Linked DNA regions of Homo sapiens. The protein of the gene in region 2 interacts with the protein of the main gene of each other region in a pairwise test. Each region holds a gene or a part of one and is shown on either strand. Other genes may lie near its edges.

What was found.
Region 1: the proteins of WFS1 (region 2) and TCF25 interact in binary tests that used the Homo sapiens proteins (3 or more experiments, as listed by UniProt).
Region 3: the proteins of WFS1 (region 2) and LCA5L interact in binary tests that used the Homo sapiens proteins (3 or more experiments, as listed by UniProt).
Region 4: the proteins of WFS1 (region 2) and LNX2 interact in binary tests that used the Homo sapiens proteins (3 or more experiments, as listed by UniProt).

Annotation. Positions count from the first base shown.
Region 1 is NC_000016.10:89,876,561-89,883,600, reverse strand, and holds part of TCF25 (ribosome quality control complex subunit TCF25), read right to left. Parts: intron 251-7,040; coding exon 89-250; intron 1-88. UniProt on the Homo sapiens protein: Component of the ribosome quality control complex (RQC), a ribosome-associated complex that mediates ubiquitination and extraction of incompletely synthesized nascent chains for proteasomal degradation.
Region 2 is NC_000004.12:6,286,810-6,293,849, forward strand, and holds part of WFS1 (wolframin), read left to right. Parts: intron 1-283; coding exon 284-366; intron 367-2,177; coding exon 2,178-2,322; intron 2,323-4,387; coding exon 4,388-4,558; intron 4,559-5,107; coding exon 5,108-5,188; intron 5,189-7,040. UniProt on the Homo sapiens protein: Participates in the regulation of cellular Ca(2+) homeostasis, at least partly, by modulating the filling state of the endoplasmic reticulum Ca(2+) store.
Region 3 is NC_000021.9:39,405,211-39,407,801, forward strand, and holds the end of LCA5L (lebercilin-like protein), read right to left. Parts: exon of another isoform or gene 2,583-2,591; intron 1,522-2,582; exon of another isoform or gene 1,403-1,521; coding exon 672-1,402; 3' UTR 518-671; downstream 1-517.
Region 4 is NC_000013.11:27,547,495-27,554,534, reverse strand, and holds part of LNX2 (ligand of Numb protein X 2), read left to right. Parts: intron 1-1,095; coding exon 1,096-1,327; intron 1,328-4,043; coding exon 4,044-4,202; intron 4,203-6,064; coding exon 6,065-6,200; 3' UTR 6,201-7,040.

The DNA.
Region 1 (7,040 bases), on a different chromosome or scaffold from region 2:
CAAGGAAAATCACAGCACAGGATACACGTGGCTGGGTGCCTTGGAACTCTCCCGTCTGATGCCACCTCCTCACCACTCAGCCCCCCACCTGCTCTGAGGGCACTGTCTCGGTGTCATCTCCATCCGTCTTGCTCTCTGTGTTTCCACGCTGACCCCTTCCTTTGTTCCCTGGTGCCACAGCGTCTGTGAGCGCACAGCCAGACCTCTCCCCGTTCACCACAGGGTCATCCTCAAGATCGTCAATGTTTATCTGGAAAAACAGGTTGGAGAAGAGCCAGGGCGTTACTTACAGTGTGAACGCTCATGCTGAGATATGAATAGTGAGATGTGAACGGGCTTGCGTTGGGGACCCCCAGGGTCAGTGCGAGACGCTGGACGGGAAAGATGCAAGAACCCGAGACTGTTGGACACAGCAGTGACTCAGCTCTGGCTCAGGGGGACTTTGTCAGCAGCTCTACAGAAAGCCGGGGCCCCGAGGCTATGGGGTATCTCTGCCTTCAGAGATGAGGTAAGGAAGACTCCTCAAATATTGTAATTTACTCCATTTACAGAGGACCATCTGCAGGACAAAACGTTAAATATATATATTCAGCCAATGCATTAAAGTTCCTTCTTCCTCCTTTCTCCTCAAGCCTCAGCTCCTCTCCAGCAGCAGGCAGGAAAAAAAGGCACCAAGGACCCATCAACCTACAAACTTTTCCTAATGAAAATGATAGGCCAGGCGAGGTGCTCGCGCCTGTGATCCCAGCACTTTGGGAGGTTGATGCAGGCGGATCACTTGAGGTCAGGAGTTCAAGACCAGCCTGGCCAACATGGCGAAACCCTGTCTCTACTAAAAACACAAAAATTAGCCAGGCACAGTGGCAGGAGCCTGTAATCCCAGCTACTTGGGAGGCTGAAGTGGTATAATCGTTTGAACCCGGGAGGCAGAGGTTGCTGTGAGTCAAGATCGCACCACTACCCTCCAGCCTGGGCAACAGAGCAAGACTCCATCTCAAAATAGAAAAACAAAATGACATACGATAAAAATAATTCATACGATGAAACCTTCTCTCTCTCTTTTTGAGACAGAGTCTCGCTCTGTCATCCAGGCTGCAGTGCAGCAGTGTGATCTTGGCTCACTGCAGCCTTGGCCTCCTGGGTTCAAGCATCCTCCTGCCTCAGCCTCCCAAGTAGCTGGAACTACAGGCGTGAGCTACCATGCCTGGCTAATTTTTTAAATTTTTTTGTAGAGATGGGGGTCTCAACACATTGCCCAGGCTGGTCTTGAGCTCCTGACCTCAAGCGATCCTCCTGCCTCAGCCTCCCAAAGAGCTGGAGTTACAGGCGTGAGCCACCACGCCAAGTCTGGAACCTTTTTATAGCAGTGAGAATGAATGAATGAATGAACCACCACTGAACACACAATATGGATGAATCTTAGGAGTATAATATTAAATGGATAAAACCTCACAACATACATTCACATACAGATTGGAGGGGAGACAGGCAGTGGGAGAAGGGTAAGAACAGGAAAAGTTCTGGCTCCTCAGCTAGTGAGAGGCTGACCGGGCACGGTGGCGGTGCACCCCTGTAATCCCAGCACTTTGGGAGGCCGAGGTGGGTGGATCACGAGGTCAGCAATTCAAGACCAGCCTGACCAACATGGTGAAATCCCGTCTCTACTGAAAATAAAAAAATCGGCCAGGTGCAGTGGCGCGTGCCTGTAATCCCAGCTACTCGGGAGGCCGAGGCAGGAGAATTGCTTGAATCCGGGAGGCAGAGGTTGCAGCGAGCCAAGATTATGCCACTGCACTCCAGCCTGGGTGATAAGGCGAGATTCCATTTCAAGAAAACAAAAAAAAAAGAGGCTAACAGATTGGGTGTGGTGGCTCATGCCTATAATCCCAGCGCTTTGGGAGGCTGAGGCAGGAGGATCATCTGAGCCCAGGAGCTTGAAACCAGCCTAGGCAATACAGTGAGACCCCATCTCTACAAAAAATTAGCAGGGTGTGGTGGCACACACCTCTTGAGTCCCAGCTACTCAGGCGGCTGAGGAGGACTGCGTGAGCCCAGCAGTCCTGGAATCTGGAACCTGGAGTGAGCCATGATCACACAACGGCACTCCAGCGTGGGCAACAGAGCAAGACTCTAGCTCTAAATTTTTTAAAAAAAAAGCTAACAGAGACCAGCATCAACAATTCTTTATGAACTAGGAGATTCTGATGGATCCAATCGGATGCACTAAGGTTCAAAAATAAATAAAACTGCCTGTTTAATTTAAAACATCTTGAAAACCACAAACCTCAGAAAACACAATCAGCTCCAAGCCCCATAGCCCTGAGATAGTTTCTGAAACAGAATTGAGACTCGGCTGCACCTGGGAAGACAGACACCCCGGCTGCGGTTGCTGAAGAGAAGAAAGCACAGGGCAGGTCTGTGCTTGCCGGTCAGTCGGCTTTCTCTCCAATGGAGGCTCCCACATGACAAGGATACGATTCAGGAGCATCTTAAACGCCCGCTGAGACAAGTCAGGAGCAACTTACGCCCGTTGAGAAAATCCATGGCAGTATAGACGTGTTATGTAAACAGAGCCCCTAACTTGAAAACACTGACACTCCACCAAAACGAGGTTTGTCCCATCCCAGCAGCACCATGATGGTGATTCTCATGGTGATGCCTCCTTCTGCCTGGCCTTTGCTGGCGAAGCTGGGGCCTAGGCATGGGCCGGCTGCCTTGCACCCTGCAGTAAAGGAAGAAAGCTGAAACAAAGCCTATTGTTGAAATGTTTCTAACCTGTGGGTGGTCACTGGTAAATTGGATCTACACCATCTCCAACATTCAACTAATGATGATGTCTCTTAGTGAAGCTGGGTGCTGGTTTACTTGTCTGTTTTTAGAGATAGGGTCTCACTGTGTTGCCCAGGCTGGCCTCAAATTCCTGTGGTCAAGGGATCCTCCTGCCTCAGCCTCCCCAGGAGCTGGGACTACAGGCACACGCCACAACACCCAATTTACTTTTTTTTTTTTCTTTTTTTGAGATGGAGTCTTGCTCTGTTGCCCAGGCTGGAGAGCAATCGCATGATCTTGGCTCACTGCAACCTCCGCCTCCCGGATTCAAGTGATTCTCCTGCCTCAGCCTCCCGAGTAACTGGGACTACAGGCATGTGCCGCCATGCCAGGCTAATTTTTGTATTTTTAGTACAGATGGGGTTTCATCATGTTGGCCAGGCTGGTCTCGAACTCCTGACCTCAGGTGATCTGCCCGCCTCAGACTCCCAAAGTGCTGGGATTACAGGCGTGAGCCACCGCGCCCGGCCAACACCCAATTTACTTTTATTAACTCATGCTGACTTCCTAAGAAAAAAAATTCTTATTTTGAGGTGTTTGACAAATCGAATTCATAAAAAGCTCTATGCCAAGCTGAACTTCAATGGAAAGGAGCCTGTGTACACGGACAGCACGCGTGATGGGCTCAGGAGCCTGCCTGTGTACACAGACAGCACACATGATAGGCCCGGGAGCCTGTCTGTGTACATGGACAACACGTGTGACAGGCTCTGAAGCCCATCTGTGTACACGGACAGCACGTGTGATGGGCTCAGGAGCCTGCCTGTGTACATGGACAGCACGCGTGATAGTCCTGGGATCCTGACTGTTTACAAAGACAGCACACATGATAGGCCCAGGAGCCTGTCTGTGTACACGGACAACACGTGTGACAGGCTCCGAAGCCCATCTGTGCACACGGACAACACGTGTGACAGGCCCCGAAGCCCATCTGTGCACACGGACAACACGTGTGACAGGCCCCGAAGCCCATCTGTGCACACGGACAACACGTGTGACAGGCCCCGAAGCCCATCTGTGCACACGGACAACACGTGTGACAGGCCCCGAAGCCCATCTGTGCACACGGACAACACGTGTGACAGGCCCCGAAGCCCATCTGTGCACACGGACAACACGTGTGACAGGCCCCGAAGCCCATCTGTGCACACGGACAACACGTGTGACAGGCCCCGAAGCCCATCTGTGCACACGGACAACACGTGTGACAGGCCCCGAAGCCCATCTGTGCACACGGACAACACGTGTGACAGGCCCCGAAGCCCATCTGTGCACACGGACAACACGTGTGACAGGCCCCGAAGCCCATCTGTGTACACGGACAACACGTGTGACAGGCCCCGAAGCCCATCTGTGTACACGGACAACACGTGTGACAGGCTCCGAAGCCCATCTGTGTACACGGACAGCACGTGTGACAGGCCCAGGAGCCCGTCTGTGTACACGAACAGCACGTGTGACAGGCTCTGAAGCCCGTCTGTGTACACGGACAACACGTGTGACAGGCCCCGAAGCCCATCTGTGCACACGGACAACACGTGTGACAGGCCCCGAAGCCCATCTGTGTACACGGACAGCACGGGTGATAGGCCCAGGAGCCCGTCTGTGTACACGAACAGCACGTATGACAGGCCCCGAAGCCCATCTGTGTACACGGACAACACGTGTGACAGGCTCTGAAGCCCATCTGTGTACACAGACAGCACGGGTGACAGGCCTAGTTTTGCTTCTTCAGTGAAGTTTTGGTGATGACACATGATTTGCTGCAATCTCTACTGCCATGCATCAGCTCTAAAATGCTGTCAATCACCGTCAGACAAACCTTATTACTGGCTGGGCGCGGTGGCTCACGCCTGTAATCCCAGCACTTTGGGAGGCAGAGGTGGGCAGATGGCGAGGTCAGGAGATCAAGACCATCCTCGCTAACACGGTGAAACCCCGTCTCTACTAAAAATACAAAAAAACTTGCCGGGCGTGGTGGTGGGCGCCTGTAGTCCCAGCTACTCAGGAGGCTGAGGCTGGACAATGGAGTGAATCCAGGAGGCAGAGCTTGCAGTGAGCTGAGATGGTGCCACTGCACTCCAGCCTGGGCGACAGCGCAAGACTCCGTCTCAAAAAACAAAACAAAACACCTTATTACCTACCCAAAAGCTGTGATTTTCATTAGTTTTAGGGTCTCAAATGGGGAACATTTCACAAGGTTCTTGTCCACGACTGATCTTCTTTAGGATAAAGCTCGATCAGCATTTCAGTTAATAACCAGGAAGGAGTTTTATCTTTTTTTAGGGGGAGAGGAAAATGTCCATTTTTCCTAAAAAAAAAAAAAAAAAAAAAAAATGGTGATTTTTAATAGAGACGGAGTTTCACCATGTCGGCCAGGCTGGTCTCGAACTCCTGACCTCAGGTGGTCCACCCGCCTTGGCCTCCCACAGTGCTGGGATTACCGGCATGAGCCACCGCACCCAGCCTGAGGTTGTCTTTTTTTTTTTTTTGAGACAGGGTCTCACTTTGTCACCCAGGCTGGAGTACGGTGGCGTCATCTCACCTCACTGCAGCCTCGACCTCCTGGGTTCAAGCCATCCTCCCGTCTCAGCCTCCCGAGTAGCTGTGACCACAGGTGAGTGCCACTATACTTGGACAGTTTTTTTGTATTGTTTGTAGAGATGGGGTTTTGCCACATTGCCCAGGCTGGTCTCACACACCTGAGCTCAAGTGATGGATCTGCCTTGACCTCCCAAAGTGATGGGATTACAGGTGTCAGCCACCAACCCTAGCCTGGAATGTTTTATACTTTAAAAAATTCAGTATCTTTAATAGATAAAAGGGCTCAGATTTTTTTATTTCTTCACATGTCAATTTAGATAAGTTTTATCTTTAAAGGAACTTGCCCATTTGTCTAATCTGGAAAATTTATTAGCAAGAAGTTCCTTATCGCCCGTTACTATCTGCACCATCTGTACCTGTGAACACTCCTCTCCCATCCCTGAAAATGGTAACGTACCTGGACCTTCCCTTTTTCCCTCCATCAGTCAATCTAGAGTTTTTGCCAACTCGTCTTTTGAGAGAACCAAGTTTCGGTCTCACCGATTCTCTCCATCGTGTCCATACTCTATTCTGTGCATTCCCCTCTTTGATTAGTTTCTTCCTTCGACACATTTTGAGTTTAATTTGCTCTTTTTCTAGTTTAAGGTAGAAGTTTCAGGTAAATTTCTAGATTTTTAAACACTTTTCTAATTTAAAATTTACGATGATAAAGTTCTAATCATCGTTTCAGTTGCATCCCACAAATTTTGATAGGTTGCTATTTTCATTACCAATCAGTTCAGAAAAGATTCTAGGCCAGGCATGGTAGCTCACATCTATAATCCCAGCACACTGGCTTTCAAAAAAAATTGAAAAAATTAGCCAGGTGTGGTGACACCCACTTATAGTTCCACCTACTTGGGAGGCTGAGGTGGGAGGATGGTTTGAGCCCAGGAGTTCAAGATTACAGTGAGTTATAATTGTGACATTGAACTCCAGCCTGGGCAATAGAGCGAGACTCTGTCTCCAAAAAACCAAAACACACACACACCCACACACAGCAAAAACTGACAGGGTTGAAAGTAGAAATAGACAAATCCATAATTATTATTACGATTTATTTATTTATTTATTTATTTATTTTTTTGAGACAGAGTCTCGCTGTATTGCCCGGGCTGGAGCCTGGTGGCACAATCTCAGTTCATTGCAACCTCCACCTCCTGGGTTCAAGCAATTCTCCTGCCTCAGCCTCCCAAGTAGCTGGGATTACAGGCACCCACCACCATGCCTGGCCAATTTTTTTTTTTTTTTTTTTTTTTTTAGATGGAGTCTCGCTCTGTTGCCCAGGCTGGAGTGCAGTGGCACGATCTCAGCTCACTGCAAGCTCCGCCTCCTGGGTTCACGCCATTCTCCTGCCTCAGCCTCCTGAGTAGCTGGGACTATAGGCTCCCGCCGCCACACCCGGCTAATTTTTTTGTACTTCTTTAGTAGAGGCGGGGTTTCACCGTGTTAGCCAGGATGGTCTGGATCTCCTGACCTCATGATCCGCCCACGTCGGCCTCCCAAAGTGCTGGGAATACAGGCATGTGCCACCACGCCTGGCCCAATTTTTGTATTCTTAGTAGAGATGGGGTTTCACCATGTTGGCCAGGCTGCTCTCGAACTCCTGACCTCAGGTGATCTGCCCA
Region 2 (7,040 bases):
TCCTTCCCATGCCTCCCACCCCGAGCGCTTTGAGTTGCTGTTGAACCACCTCACCCGCATAGAGTTTGCTCATCTTGCTCTGGCGCTGCTTGTGACCGGAAGGCAAACAGTGGCTTTCTGGGCATCTTCCCTGTCTGTGTCTGTGTCTCTCTGTACTCCTGGCCTGGATTTGAAAGTGACAAGCAGCAGCAGATCTGAAGACCCTCATGCCTTGTCCCCTCCATCCTGACAAGTGACAAAGTCTGGCTTTGTGACATGTGTGTTTGTTTCTTCTGTGTTAAAGGGCCTACAAAGGGAGACATGGAAATCCCCTTTGAAGAAGTCCTGGAGAGGGCCAAGGCCGGGGACCCCAAGGCACAGACTGAGGTGAGGACTGCGGTGCCGGCAGGGACTTCGGGACGCGGCCCCCGGCACAACAGGCCTGGCCACGAGCTCCACAGCCCACAGAGAAGTGTCGGTGCCTGAGATCGGGGTCAGGAGCCAGCGTGGTGCACCCTACCCCACTTGAGCCCCATGTTGGTAGGGTGCCCATGTTCACTGTGCCAGTTTTCCTCCTGGCACTCCTCTGGGGAGCAGCGCTCATCCCCCTTTTGTCCAACTCACACCTCATCTTGGGCATCACCTCCTCCAGGATGACCTCCTGGCTTCCTGCAGCTGCCTGCTCAGTGCCACCCCTCAACATACACTGTGTATGCTGCCCACTCTTGTCTCCCTGACTGGCCTTTCACCTGGCTGTTAGCTGTGTGCACGGGGCCCTCAGAGCGGTGACCATTCACTTGGGCATCAGCCAAGGGCTGGGCTTTGTGCCAGTGCTGGGGACATGATGTGGCCCTCTCTTCATGGGTGACAGGTTAGTGGAAGAAGCAGACCCAAAAAACCCAAGTAGACAAGACACAGAAATACAGTGATTTTGAATTCTGGTGAGGGGAGAAGCCAGCAGAACGCTGAGACGGGAGGTGGCAGGGGGTCCTGTGTCCTCTGTGGAGGCAAGTTCTCACCACCTCACTCTGTCCCCTTGCACAGGGCTCAAGCAAGTGACCACAGTTATCCTGAGCAGTTTCCTGCCCCCTCTTCTCCCTAAAGAGGAGAAAAGCTTCCACGCGAAACCATAAATTAAGAATTTCTGGCTGGGAGCGGTGGCTCACGCCTGTAATCCCAGCACTTTGGGAGGCTGAGGCGGGTGGATCACCTGAGGTCAGGAGTTCGTGACCAGCCTGGCCAACATGATGAAACCGTGTCTCCACTACAAATAGAAAAATTAGCCAGACATGGTGGTGCATGCCTGTAATCCCAGCTACTTGGGAGGCTGAGACAGGAAAATCACTTGAACCCAGGAAGTGGAGGTTGCAGTGAGCCGAGATCGCACCACCACGCTCCCAACTGAGCAACAGAGCAAGACTCTGTCTCAAAAAAAAAAAAAAAAAAATTTCTTTCCTGACCTCACAGCCATATTGTACTTTAAAGTTCCTCCCACATCCTTTTGCCCAGGCATTTGGAGGCGGGGGGAGCATAGTAAGCCCTTTTATGGGCTCTCTGTGCCCTGGGCCTCACTTTTTCCATCTGTAGAATGAGAAGACTGGACCATTTCAGCAGGGATTCTTTTTGCAAAGGGCCAGATAGTGAATATTCTGGACTCTGCGCAATCTCTGCCGTGTTGCTCAGCTTTGCTGTGGAGCACGTAAAAGCAGCATGGACAACATGTAAATGAATGGTTATGGTTGTATTTCAATAAAACTTTATTTGCAAAAACAGGCAGTGGGCCAGTGCTAACCCTTGGTTAGCTGGCGTCTCTCCAGCCCTGGCTTTCTATGGTCCCCTGACTGTTTTGAGAGGTGTAAAGGACCCAGTCATGGTTCTGATTTCCATGCATTGATGGTGAGCCTTGGCAGGCAGGAGCAACTCAAGGAAGAGAACCTGTACCAGTACCAGTCGGAGCCCGTGTCTCCCTCGCCGTGTGGATGGGGTGGCCACACCTTCCTCACCGTGTTTTGAGGAGCGAGTGGCCGGAGGCTCAGTAGGGCCTAGCCTAGTGGACATGCCTGGTGTGACCCCATTTCTGCCCCTTCCTTCCTGGCCTGGGTGACAAAGGGAAGTGGGTGAAAGGAGGTGGGCTGGCAGGGAGCATGGGGTGGGAGAGGGTCGGAGAATCTGGAGGCTGACTGGTGTCTGGCTTGCAGGTGGGGAAGCACTACCTGCAGTTGGCCGGCGACACGGATGAAGAACTCAACAGCTGCACCGCTGTGGACTGGCTGGTCCTCGCCGCGAAGCAGGGCCGTCGCGAGGCTGTGAAGCTGCTTCGCCGGTGCTTGGCGGACAGAAGAGGTGGGTCTGTGTGAGGCTTAGAACAGCCTCTGGAGGGTTGAGCAGCTTGTAATGCTGCTTGCTAACTGAACAACTAAAATCTTACCAAACCTAACGCTGGTGATGCTGTTGGGAAATTTCAGTTTCTGTTTTGCTGGTGGCCTTCTCATTTTAGACACTGTTTCTGGACTTAACATGGGATATTTAACAGACCAAGCCATTTTCATTCTCTTTGGCTTGTGTTGGTATCTCCAAGTGGTAACTATACATCCTGCTTCCCTGCTGGGTTCTGATCCAAACTGAGACATCGATCCTGGGTTCAGCTGAGAGGCAGTTTCCCTGAGGCAAAGCTGGAGACTGTAATGTGGCCTGCAGTCAGAGTGGCCCATGCCCCTGAGCTGATGTCCGTCGAGTCTGGGCAGACCAGCTGAGGGGCTGTGGGCCCACACAGACCTGGACAAGCATGTTCACTTTGGGAGGAGGCAGGCTGACCCTTCATAGATAATCTCTTTCAAACAGAGAGGCAGGGGAGGAAAGGGACGCAGCTCAGGCCAGGGGTGGTGAGTTAGGACGTTGTCCTGCGCAAGGGAAGTGGCTGTCCCTGGTGCCGTGGGGCAGTGTGCTTCCTGAAGGTTCCACGCCTCAGGGAAAGATGAAAGTGGGTGTCACAAAGGTGTTTTTTCTAATGATACCTTTTTTTTCAGATTGTAAGAGTATTTTATGCTTATCATAGAAAACTTGGACTATGTAGAAAACATAAAGATACAAATTACTCATAACCTTGAAGCCCAGAAGCAACTCCCCATATTTTGGTGTATTTCCTTCTGTGTTTGTTGTTGTTGTTTTGAGATGGAGTCTCACTCTGTCGCCCAGGCTAGAGTGCAGGGGTGCGATCTCAAGTCACTGTAACCTCCACCTCCCTGGTTCAAGCAATTCTCCTGCCTCAGCCTTTTGAGTAGCTGAGATTACAGGCGTGCATTACCACACCTAGCTAATTTTTGTATTTTTAGCAGAGACAGGGTTTCATCAGGTTGGCCAGGCTGGTCACAAACTCCTGACCTCAGGGGATCCACCCTCCTTGGCCTCCCAAAGTGATGAGAGTACAGGCGTGAGCCACCATGCCCAGCTTGTATCATATTTTAAGAGTTACATTTATTATACAGAGTCTTCTCTTTGAAAATTAAACTGATGATTTTGAAAAACTAACAGTGGCATTGTTAGCCAGAATTTCTCACCAACCCAGCCTGCTGATTCCAGAGCAGTTGGAATGACCTGGAGGGGGCTCAGGCGGCCCACACGGCTCATTGTTGGGTGCCAGGGATAGCCCAGAGGCTGCTGGGGCAGAGCGTGCAAGGGAGGAGGCCGGTTGGCCCCGTGTTCCCCCAGCTGCACACACCTTCTGATGTGCAGTTGTGCTTTCTGATTTGAAAAGAAATACATGCTCATGTGGAAAATTTTGGAAATGTTCAAAAGGAGAAAAACATCCAGACCCCCGTGCCAGTCCTCCTGCCCTCTGCTTGGTTGTGCCAGTGTCCCAGGCCGTTGGGGGTAAAGGGAGGAAGGCAGCTGCTGACCAGCGGTAAAACCTGCTCTCCCTCTCCCCGCTGTCCAAGCCTTCCTTAGAAAGGGCTGGGCTGTGTGTGAGACAGAGGAAAGCTCTGTAGACACAGGGGTGGCCCTGCCAGTGCACCCAGGCTGGTGACTGCAGTGAGTCCACCCTGGGTTCAAGACAGCTCTGCCTCTTTCTGACTGTGTGACCTTGAGTGAGCCAGAACACAGGCCTGTGCCTCCGGGTCTGCACCTCTGAGAGAGGGGAGGAACAGGAAGAGGCTGCCTTCTTCCCGCCAGCATGTAGGGGGCACTTGGGGGCGTCTGGTGGGAGACCAGTCTGGCCTCCCAGCTGGAGAGTGGGCGTGGCGCGATGTCCTCTTGAGTCAGATGTCCATGCATCCTTCCCTGGTAACCAAGTCCTGACACCTTCTATGAGTCTCGCTCGAAAGCCTTCCAGGCAGAGTTGGCAGGGTCAGAGTGGCACCGAAAGCCTAGGCAGGGCACACAAGGCCTTTGACCACATCCTATCCCTCAGGCATCACGTCCGAGAACGAACGGGAGGTGAGGCAGCTCTCCTCCGAGACCGACCTGGAGAGGGCCGTGCGCAAGGCAGCCCTGGTCATGTACTGGAAGCTCAACCCCAAGAAGAAGAAGCAGGTGGCCGTGGCGGAGCTGCTGGAGAATGTCGGCCAGGTCAACGAGCACGGTGCGAGGATTCACCCTGGGCACCAGCCTTCCCTGGGCGCCAGCCTTCCCACAGGAGCCAGGACCTTCCCATAGGGGCTGGGACCTTCCCTCAGGGGCTGGGTCTTCCCACAGGAGCCGGGACCTTCCCTGTGAGGACAGGGCCCTTCCTTGTGGGGACCAGGGGACCAGAACCTTCCTGTAGAGACCGTGCCCTAGTGGTGAGGTGTGTGGGTGGCATTTTGACAGCATCTGCCCTGGCTCAAGTGCTCACTCATTGAATAAACCAGAGGGTATTCTGCCCAGTGCTCTGTGACCACGTCTACCAATGGGACGGACTGTGTCCATCACCAAGTGGGAGCACGCTACGTGGTGCTGAGTCCACCCCAGCTACTGGAGGTACAGAGGTGTGGCCCCTGCTCTGCCTGCCCTGGGGGCCCTATGATCCCCAGAACGTAGGATGCCCCTGGAACTGGCGTGCCCTAGGAACAGTGCGCCAGTTTCTGGTGGGCTGCAGGGCACGAGGAGATAGTCAACTTGTCTGACTGTTAATCCACCCTGTCCCCTGCAGATGGAGGGGCGCAGCCAGGCCCCGTGCCCAAGTCCCTGCAGAAGCAGAGGCGCATGCTGGAGCGCCTGGTCAGCAGCGAGTGTGAGTGCAGCCCCTGCCCCGTCTCACCCATGCCTCCCAGCCTGCACCTGCAGGGCGACCTCTCCTTCCTGTGCGACTCCATCCTGGCCTGCCCTATCTCACCCGTGCCTCCCAGCCTGCGCCTGCAGGGCGACCTCTCCTTCCTGTGCGACCCCATCCTGGCCCTGCTAGGATCTCAGGCGGTCCGTTTGGGGCTCAGTGTTCTGGACGCTGGGAGTAGACCCTGCCCACCTGGAGCGCACGCACTGGAGGGAAGGCAGACCCAGGACAGAAACCATGATGTGCCAGTCCCTCTTGGACAAGGAAATACTGGGGGTGGGGACTGGCGGGGGGGTCCTGAGTGGGGAAGGATGAGGAGGGCATTAGGGGAAGGGGCTCCGGGCAGAGGGAACAGCATGAGCAAAGGCCCAGGAGACCCAGCAGGGTGTGGAAGGGGCTCTGCCCCAGCGTAGGCCCTTTGTAGGTAGGCAGGGAACAGAGTGGGCAGAGCCTAGGTTGGGGGATAGAGTCTCTGGGGCACACTGAGCTGGGGGTGCCTCTGGGATGTTTGTGGTCAAAGACTGAGAAGAGACGTCACATCCTCCACGTGCAGCTGGCCAGCCTCACTGTCTTCCATCCACGTGGGGTAGACTCTGCAGTCTGAGGCACTGGGAGCTCCTGTCCTGGAGAAGATAGACAGGCAGGAGGCTTGGGGGCTCAGTATCAATGGGGGGATGGGCCAAGACCCAGGTCTGCCACAGACTCTTCTTGTGACATGGGCAGGTCTCATTTTTCTTTCTGGGTGTCAGTTTCCCCTTCTGAACAGTGAGATGATCAGACAAGGGGACTGAAGGACCTCGCCCATCCTAGAAGCCTCTGTGGCATGTAGGGCAGAGTACAGGTGGGAGCACAGATCCCACCTTCCCACTGGGCCCGTGAGGAAACCGTCCATAGGGTGTGGTCAGAGCCCTCGCCTCTGCGTGGGCGGACATGGGTGCTTGCGCTGCTGTTTTCCTGCTCCATTTGGGGGAGACAAAGAAACACCTCACATGGAAGTGGGAAGAAATCTGTGACTCTAGGAAGCCCGAGGACCAGAGAGGCTGTGACAGTGTCCTGCCACCGAGGTGGCATGGTGCCTGCTGTCCTGAAGTGAGGTGCCTCTGGGCAGGAGCAGCCCAGCCTGGGTCTCCATCCTGGGGGGCACTGCAGGCAGAGTCTGGACCCCAACCTCACTTCCCAGTCCCACAGGGGTTTGTGATGAGCCGGGCACACCTGCTGCTGGGCCCTGTCGCTGTTGCTGGGGGCGAGTTAGGAGTCAGCGCTGCCAGCCTGTGGTCCCCTCCGCCAGGCCCTCAGGGACAGGGCCCCAGCACCCCCATTGTTTCCCCTCTATCAGAACGTTCCCATCAGGCATCATCTGTTTCTCTGCCAGCTTTTCCAACAGAACTCCCAGAAAGGGGCGTCTGTCATCCCCTTCTCTCGTCCTCCGTCCTTTGCTCTCAGGCCTCTGCCATGTTATTCCACCAAAGCGGCTCGTCTAGGCCATCAGTGACCCCCCTTGCTCAGTCACTTCTTGTCCTTGTCTGACTTGATCTGTCAGCAGCGTGGGCAGAGATGACTGCTCTTCTCCTTAGAGCCCTCTCCCCCACCAGGCCCGGGGCCCTTGCTGCCACACTGGCTGCTCCTTCTTGGGGTCCCTAGACTGATGTCCTGTCTCTCAGGACAGGACATCCTGCCCAAGGTATTCATCCCTATGAGGACAGGGGCCTTCCTTGTGGGGACCAGGGTCTTCCCGTAGGGACTGTGCTCTGGTAGGGAGATGTGTGGGTGGCATTGGTGACCACTCTCGTGTGTCAGACGCCGTCCTGAACCC
Region 3 (2,591 bases), on a different chromosome or scaffold from region 2:
TTTTGAGACACGGTCTCACTCCGATTGCCCAAGCTAGAGTGCAGTGGCACGATCATGCTCACTGAAGCCTCGACCTGGGCACAAGTGATTCTTTGACCTCAGCCTCCCAAGTAGCTGGGACTACAGGCACACACCACCACACCTGGCTAATTCTTATAATTTTTGTAGAGACGGGGTTGTACCATGTTGGCCAGGCTGGTCTTAAACTCCTGGACTCAAGTGATCCTCCCACCTTGGCCTCCTAAAATGCTGGGATTACAGGCAAGAACCACTGCATCTGGCCTGCTTCCATGTTTTTAAGTTACAATTCAACTCTATTGCTGATAAATTTTGTTGTGTAGGAGATGCATGTCTTGGGTTGACTAACTTAAGAGTTACTAGCTATGGAGTCCCACAGAATACTAAAACCATATAGTAAACCAGTCTTCCAGAAGATAATGGATGTTTCAGTTGTAAAGATGTAAATTTGTATTTGAAGTGTTATCATTGGCTAATATAAAATAGATTTTTTACTAGATTAGCAATCAAACAAAAATTTAATTATCGAAAGTCAATTAAGTACTAAAACACACACATACATACACTCCCTCTCTCACACATTTCAAAAATAAGATGCAAGGCACATAAGCAGCATTATATCAAACCAGAATGCATTAGGATATTGATTATATTTAAATAATTATTTTTCTTTTTCCTTCTGTAGGTGACGATGGCTTAATAGAATTTACCACAGTTACTTTAGAGTCTCCGAAAGCATGGCTGGTGGAGGCCTGACTGGGAGGCAGGGGATGCGACTCCTTACTTTGCAAAGGCTCCTCTGAGCCTTTTGCAACACCAGGACTTGATTGGTCAGTTTTCAAGACATAGCCTGATCCAAAGAGTTCTTCCATGAGACTGCTTTTCTTATCTCTGAAAGTTGTATCCTTCACTTTTATTCTGGAAGACTTACCAAATGAGGGCTCATACCCACTGTCAGAATGCTCTAGCTCCATTTCCTCTCTGTTACTGAGATGCTTGCCTGTACTATGACTGTACCTCATGTTGCCGGCATTGGCTGGCCCCCCTGAAGCAGGAAGCCCATGATGCAGGTTTTCAGTTGCTTCTGTGAATGAGTAATGTCTTCTTTGTCTGAGGGGGCCTTTCGTGTAGGGAGCAGTGCCTTTGCCAAGTGTGTCATCCACACCATTTCTCTGCATGCTTCTTTTAAACTTTTCTCTTACTAGAACATCTTCTTGATTGCTTTCTCTTTCAGGATGAATAACTTCAATTATTTTTGGTGGTAGTTCTTGCTCTTCTTTCACAAAAATGTTTTTCTTTTCTTGGTCTTCTTTTTTGTCTTTTTGTCTTCCAGTATTCTCCAGCAGTATTTGGACTTCCAAATGTTTCTCTTCCCCTGATAAATCTATATTAGAAAAATAGGCAATTTAGTGCTGTTTAAAATGAATGGATCTCTATTTCAAGATGGCATGTCTAGTACACTTACGTGCACCGCCTCACAAGCACACTGAAATGACAGAAAAGGTAAGAAAATAGATGCATAGACAAAAGATTACAGAGAAAGGTGCTATTAACAAATGTGTTATGTTACAGTTTCTTGGAACTTCCCAAGCAGATGGGAATTATGAAACCAAAAGAAAAATGACATTCATAGAAGAAGAAATAAAATTTGCCAATAAGGTTATTAATAGATGTTTAACATCACTAACTGGACATACTGCCAGTTGAAACAATGATGGCTGGGTGCAGTGGCTCACACCTGTAATTCCGGCACTTTGGGAGGCTGAGGCAGGAGGACTGTTTGAGCCCAAGAGTCTGAGACCAGCCTGGGCAACATAGCGAAACCCTGTCTCTACAAAAAATACAAAAATTAGCTGGGTGTGGTGGTGTCTGCCTGTAGTCTTGGCTACTCAGGAGGCTAAGGTGGGAGGATCACTTGAGCCCAGGAGGACAAGACTGCAGTGAGCCGTGACTGTGCCACTGCATACCAGCTTGGGCAACAGAGCAGAGCTGTTTCAAAACAAAACAAAACAAAACAGAACAGAAGAACAGAACAGAACAGAACAGGACACAATGAGAACATTTTTCATCCATCCAATTGGCAAATAATTTCTAGAGCTGGTGAGAAGATGGGGAAATTGGAATGTTTGGTCCCCGCTGGTGGGTGTGTTGTTGGTACAGCATTTTTGGATGGCAATTTGGCAGTATCAAGATTTTAGGTGAATATACTCTTAGACCTAACAACTTCTTCTTAGAACGAACCTACAAAAAATAGACAAGGATAAGTGCAACGATGTTCACTGTGGCGTGGGTTAGTAACAATAAAACCTCCTAAACATCTGCCAAAGGAATAATGGTTAAATAAGGTATGGCACGTGCAGTCTGTGGAATTCCAGGCAGTTATTATAGACAATGAGCTGGATCCATGTGAACTGATGGGGAAGGATGTTCCCACTACAGAATATAAGCACATGAGGGCAGGGTTTTGCATTTGCTTCCTCCTGTCTCCCTAATGCCTAGAACAGTGTCAGACACATAGTGCATGCTCAGAAAGTATTTGTCAAATGAATGGATACACTTTCTAGGACACTATG
Region 4 (7,040 bases), on a different chromosome or scaffold from region 2:
TGAAAATATTATGCAAGTAAAAGAAGCTAGATATAAAAGACCATGTATGATTCCATTTACATGAAATGTTCAGAAGAGGCAAATCTGTAGAGACAGAAAGTAGATTAGTAGTTGCTTAGGGTTGGGGAAGGGAAATGATGGGTATAGAGGGAGTGATTAAAATGTTCTCAAAATTACTGTAGTGATGATTGCACAACTGTGAATATATTAAAACCATAAAATTATGTTCTTTAAATGGGTGAATTGAATAGTATGTGAATTATTTCTCAAGCTGCTATTAAGTAAAGGTTATTTGTCCAGTTGTAGTATTGGGGTAATTTTATTTCCTTTTTGTTCTTTTATTGTGTTTTCTAAATTTTCTACAATGAGAATGATTTGCTTTAATAATCTGAAAAACTGATGATAAATTGGGAGAGATAAATTTCTGTAGACTTTGTAGCACAAATGTCTGCTTCCTACAAAACTAATCCTTTCCTAACCTTTGATATAATCCTCATTGCCATTTTTTATTATATTACTTAGCAGAGCAACAGTTCTTTTCTTCCTGAAACAGGGAAGACATTCAAACCGCAAGTTTCATTTCTTCATGTGGGCCCAGGGATAGCTTCTTTGTACATATTCTGATGTTTGCCCTGAATAAACTATACAGGGCTGTCCTTATGTATAGAACTGTGTAAATATAAAGCAGAATACATTAAAGATTTATTTCTAAGGGCAAAGGATCAAGTGATTTTTGATTGGACAGAATTGTAGAAATCTCTGAAACTCTTAAGAAGAGAAATGAACCTGCCCAGGGCCTGTACACAGCTAAACTCAGACTGATGATTCGAACTTCCAATCATGTCAAGGTGCCTCAGGCCACACTTTTTTCTATGTATTATGACATTATTTTAAAATTATGGAATGTTTTCTGTGTATTGGGTTTCTTCTCAATATTATAAAAATTACAAAGAAATAATAAATGCCATTTATTATTATACCTTATCTCATCAGAGTTGGGGGAACTAACTTTTGTTGCTTAGTTTATAAACAACAAGATTTGCAGGTGAAAACTCAGTGGCTCAGCTCATTTTTCTTGTTTCTTCATCTGAACAGGTGATGTGTTGCTAAATATCAACGGCATTGATTTGACCAATTTAAGTCACAGTGAGGCAGTTGCAATGCTGAAAGCCAGTGCCGCGTCCCCTGCTGTTGCCCTTAAAGCACTTGAGGTCCAGATTGTTGAGGAGGCGACTCAGAACGCGGAGGAGCAGCCGAGTACTTTCAGCGAAAATGAGTATGATGCCAGTTGGTCCCCATCATGGGTCATGTGGCTTGGGCTTCCCAGGTACTGAGCGCTTTCTTGTTGCTTTATGGAAATCATAATCATGCTTGCAGCCCTTATCAGTGTGTAGCATGATAAATTTACTCGTTGGGATAAAAAAAAAAGCTTTAATTCAGTAAAATAGCAACATCAAATCAAATTACAAAAGAAAAGGATAATTTTTCTTAGGATATTACACTTTAAAAGGTACACAAAGAAAGCAGTTGTGTCCATTCCTGTCAAGGCTCCTCAGTGGGCTAGCCATGAGATTGGATAACCCAGCCTCTTGCTTAGAAAAGTTGTCGTTTACCAGCACTCATTCCGCTATGTGCTGAGACTTCATGCATTTTTCATCAGAAAACCCAGGCCAATCTTGGGGCTTCCCCCCATCCCAGAAGCCTTTCTTAACACCTTTTTAAATTTATTTTAACTCTCGCTAAAAAGGGTGGCATTTAAAACTCAATTTTTATTGGATACAAGAGTCTATTAAGCCAAACCATTAGTGTTCAAGAATGGCTGCTTCACTTTTATTTTTTATAAATGTGACCAGCCAAGATATGCTGTGGTTGGTCAGTGTCGGGGTCACAGAAGCACATGGAACCTCCAGTGGCATCCCAGGGTACATTCCTTTCCGCGGTTGTTGTTTGACATTTGAGATAGGAAGAATGTGTTCCTATCATCATTTGTTGTCTAATCCGTTTAGATTCTTACCGTACCTAAGAATCCTAAAACTAAGCTATGAAGCATTTTGACTTTTGACCAAGTATGAAAATTATTGATTCTTTAAAATAAAACAATAAGAATTTGCTATTTTCTGAGCCACCTGACTCGTGGGATACATTTATAACAACAACTAGCATTTATATAGTGCTTCAAGGCGCTTTGCGCATAGTGGGTGAGAAGTGGTCTACTCGTGCAGTGGCTGGGCAGCACGTTGCAGACCTCAGAGCTTGTCTGCACCTCTAATGATGGGGCAGGCAGAGAGCAGCAGCGTCCTGGAGAAACTTGGTCCCTAGTGCTTCCTTTAATTTTCCTTATCTGATATACCAGTCTAGTTTGGAGGTTGGCACATTGACCTCTTTTTTTCAGAGCATTTTCTGGTGTGCCAGGCATAATAGCAAAGATTTTAGATGAGAAATACACAGTATAGTAAAATCTGTTTTTGAGCCCACCTGTGTTGAAAGAATACCTGTCGATAAAAGGCTACTATTCAATGTGTGTATGGAGGTCTCTGTTGAATGCAAAGCTATATTCAACAGCCATGTGTCCTCCTCAGTGGGTGCAGGTGGCCCCTATATGCAGGTTTCACACGGCATAGTGTAGCAGCTCTGCTCTGCTTTTCGTGAAAAGGGAGATTCTTCCACTGCGATTTGCTGGGGTATACAAGAAAGCTGTTTGTTTCAGAAGATGCAGCATTAGGAAAATAACCAACACTGTCCCTTTAAATCCAGGCCAGTGCATGGGACCTTGTTCCATCCCAGAAGCCTTTCTTATCAGTGAGCTAGGAAACTAGATAAGATGAGAAGTTCTGGCATGGTAAACATTGCTTTATAGAATTGGCTTTATTAAGAAATAATAAAACAGGATTTTTAAAATTAATTATTTATATTATGTATATTTATTATTTTATTATGGATTTAAAACAGGAAACCTTGCCTTCCGTGCATTTAGATCCAGTTTCACCTAAAGATGAAAGATATTTATTTATTATGAAGAGTTTTTTTTTCCTTATCATTTAGGTGTGCTTTTTTTGTTTGTTTTGTTTTTAAGATTTTACTCACTGCTTGTTCCCAAATCCATAGAGCTATGGAAACATAAGTACATTTTTTTTTTCTCCCTCTCTGGACACATCCTGCAATCTGGCAGTAGCATTCTAACTGTAGTTTCTCAGTGTCTATGATACATTTATATATGCATGTGTGTGTATAGATGTGTATATATTTTCTTTTTTTTTAAAGATGGGGTCTTGCTCTGTCACCCAAGTTGGCATGATCATAGCTCACTGCAGCCTCAAGCTCCTGGGCACAAGCCATCCTCCTGTCTCAGCCTCCCAGTAACTGGGACTACAGACACATGACGCTGTACCCAGCTTGTCTATGATAGAAAAAAAAAGAAAAAGATTTTTTGTTAGTGTTTTTCAGATTGATTTCTCTATTTTGGCAATTAGAGTCTCCCTTAAAATGAAAACATCCTAAGTAAAGGAGAAAATAACAAATAACTCCTCATGTAGACTAAAAGCCTATAGGACCTTTAGAAAAGAGAGATAATTATCTGCCTTCTTTTCGGAAGCTGCGTTCCTAATCTTTTTCTTCTTTCATTTGCATGCTGGGCTTGGCAGTACTAGACCTCTTTCATCCCACATTGTAATTCCTCTTGTAGATAAAAGTGATTAGTAGAATTGAGGACTTTGTTGACAATGCAGTGAGCTGATATAGGTACATGACCTTTTTGTACAGGTTACTGAGGTGTAATTTGTAACCAGGTTCTCTACTTGTGTGTGTGTGTGTATGTGTGTGTGTGTGTCTTCACTTGGGAAGACTGAAAAAAGTTGGAGAAATTTGAGTCTACCTAGGACTGTGTCTCTGCTAGAAGATGGATTGTCAAAATAATCTATTTATTAATAGCCCTTTTTCTTTTTTCCAAGAGTGGTAAATATAACATGGTATGGGGTTATAACAAAAATAAGCGGCTATAAAAGCCTCCATGTTAATTTTTTCTTTATTTTTCTGTTTGTTTATAGCACACTTCATAGCTGCCACGATATAGTTTTACGAAGAAGTTACTTGGGAAGTTGGGGCTTTAGTATCGTTGGTGGATATGAAGAGAACCACACCAATCAGCCTTTTTTCATTAAAACTATTGTCTTGGGAACTCCTGCTTATTATGATGGAAGATTAAAGTGAGTCTTGTTCTAATTAATGATGTGATTCATGTTGATGACATTGGACATGATCTAGACCAGGGGTCAGGGGTCAGCACTAAATCCAGCCCATTATCTTTTTGAAAATAAAGTTTCATTGCAGTGCAGCTACACTTACTGGTTTATGTACTCTCTGGCTCCCACACTACACCAGCGGAGTTGATGTCATCATGACAGAGACTGTATGGGTCTTGAAGCCTAAAATATTTACCATCTGACCCCTTACGGAAAAAATTTGCCAATCCCGATCTAGACTGAAATGTTACCTTTACTGTCTTGTCACTTATAGCTATGTTTCATTAATCTGATGACAGAAACTGAACCTGAGTTATTTCATTGGACATATTTCATTCATCACGTTGTGATGTGACATTGAGCGCTGAGTAAGTTTCCCACACAGCCTACTCAGGTCCAGTCCTGTCATTAGATGACTCTGCTTCATTTTTCTCCATAGCACTCATCTCTACCTGAGATCGTATTTATGCAAGCTCCATAAGGGAGGGATCTTGTTGCATTTATTGTTATATCCCTAGCAGTCATAACAATACCTTGCATAAAGTAAGATCTCCATAAATATTTGATGAATGAATGTACAATAGCTTACAGGATGCCTGGCGCGGTGCTAAGTGCTGTGCATGCATTATGTAATCTTTTTAACAATCCTATGAGGTAAGTTTCTTTATTATCCCTGTTTTAAAACAAACAAGATAACTGAGGCTTGGAAAGGTTAAGAAACTTGCCCACAATGAAATAGCTGAAAGTGGTTGGCTGGCATTCAAACCCAGGACTATCTGGCTCTAGATCCCTGGACTTTAACCCCTCTGCCAGCCTCTACCACTGAGCAAAAGTCCTCGCTCAGTGTACAGCGTCTTATCAAAGCCCGGGCACTGGGAGAAGAAAAGAGAAGGTGTCATGGCAAGACATCATCACCAGCAGAGAGGAGGTGGTTGATTGTAAATTCTTAATACCTGGTTTACGAAGGAAGAACCAGTTCTTAAAAAGTAAATGTTGACATTCTATATAGAATGCTATGCAGATGGAGAATGTACACTGTTTGCAAGGAGTAAGTGACATCTAAATAATGTATGGAAAGGTGATTGGGAGTGGTATGCTCCAGGTCAGCCTATATTGATAAAGATGAAAAAAAATCATTTTAGGAGGACAGAGTAGGGAAAAATGAATTAATCACTCTCTTAGCTAAGTTACTTAACCAGTCTGGGCCTCTGTTAATTATAATTTGTATTCCTCCTACTTCCAAAAAGAAATTGAGGTAGTTAACAATAAAATAGTATATTTATGGTATAAATAGAAGACCAAAAACCATAAGGATAATTATGGTAATTATAAGGCTGGAAAGGTCCTCCAATTCATCATCCATCCATAATAATTCTGCTTAGAGTACAGTGAGCGTCAACAGCTGAAAGAAGAGGAAGTATGGGTCTTATTTCCAATTTAATTCAGCCCTCAGATGTATGAGCTCTAAGAATGAATAGAAAAATAGCAGTCAAAATAATAACCCCCTTCAAATGCATGACTTGGTATTTTTTTAAAGAGAGAGCATATTTACTCTATATTTTGCTTAAATTAGTGTGAAAATTACTCTGCTTGTCCTTGACATTCACCTACTGGTTATGGAGTCATCGGCACAGGGGTTTCCTTGATTGGCAAGGGAAAGCCAGCATAGGCTTAAGGGCTGTCCCAGACAAAGTAGATTATACACCCTAACCATTGACAGTTCAGTGGTAAGTGAAACCGCATTTTTCATGCTACATAAATCTCAATTGGGATATTTTTAATACCATGAAAATAGTAACATTCTGTATCTGTCTCTCTTTGTCCAGGTGTGGTGACATGATTGTGGCCGTAAATGGGCTGTCAACCGTGGGCATGAGCCACTCTGCACTAGTTCCCATGTTGAAGGAGCAGAGGAACAAAGTCACTCTGACCGTTATTTGTTGGCCTGGCAGCCTTGTATAGATTTTGGAAATTGGTTTCAAATCTTGCATCTTCCTTTTTTAGATTTTTGAAAGAAAACCCTTTGGTTTCATTGTGTTTGTGGTTTAGGAGCTGCTGACACTGCTGGTATACACAGGGCCAAAACCCACTAAGATTGTCCGTTTATGTTTATTTAAATGGTTTCCTAAGTTAGTTACATTTCTTTTAGCTTGGAAACAGTCTTCCACTAACCTTTGTGAGTTTATATTTTCAGAATTCAGACTTAGTTGTTAAAATGTTACCTATGGTAATGAGCAAAGCTCACCCAAACTGTGCCCCAGATGGAGTAAAGACCTTCTGGTGGGTCTTTGTTTTCAGTAACTGAATCATAGAACGAGTTCTGTATCCCTCAGGCCTGATGTCAGCAAAGCCAGTAACAACAGCGTGTACTGCCACTGTCATAACCAATACCATGAATGAATATACTTTAAATTTTGGTGATAACTGTTCCCCATTTTTTTTTGAACCACAGTCTCACTCTCACCCAGGCTGGAGTGCAGTGGCACAATCTCAGCTCACTGCAAGCTCCGCCTCCTGGGTTCACGCCATTCTCCCACCTCAGCCTCCCGAGTAGCTGGGACTACAGGCGTGTGCCACCATGCCCAGCTAATTTTTTGTACTTTTAGTAGAGACGGGGTTTCACCGTGTTAGCCAGGATGGTCTCGATCTCCTGACCTTGTGATCTGCCCGCCTCAGCCTCCCAAAGTGCTGGGATTACAGGTGTGAGCTGCCGCACCCGGCCGTTCCCATTTTTTATTGGTGCCAACATTTCAAAACTTCATACTGTTTATAAACTGATTTTCTGGTTTATTTCTACTGTAA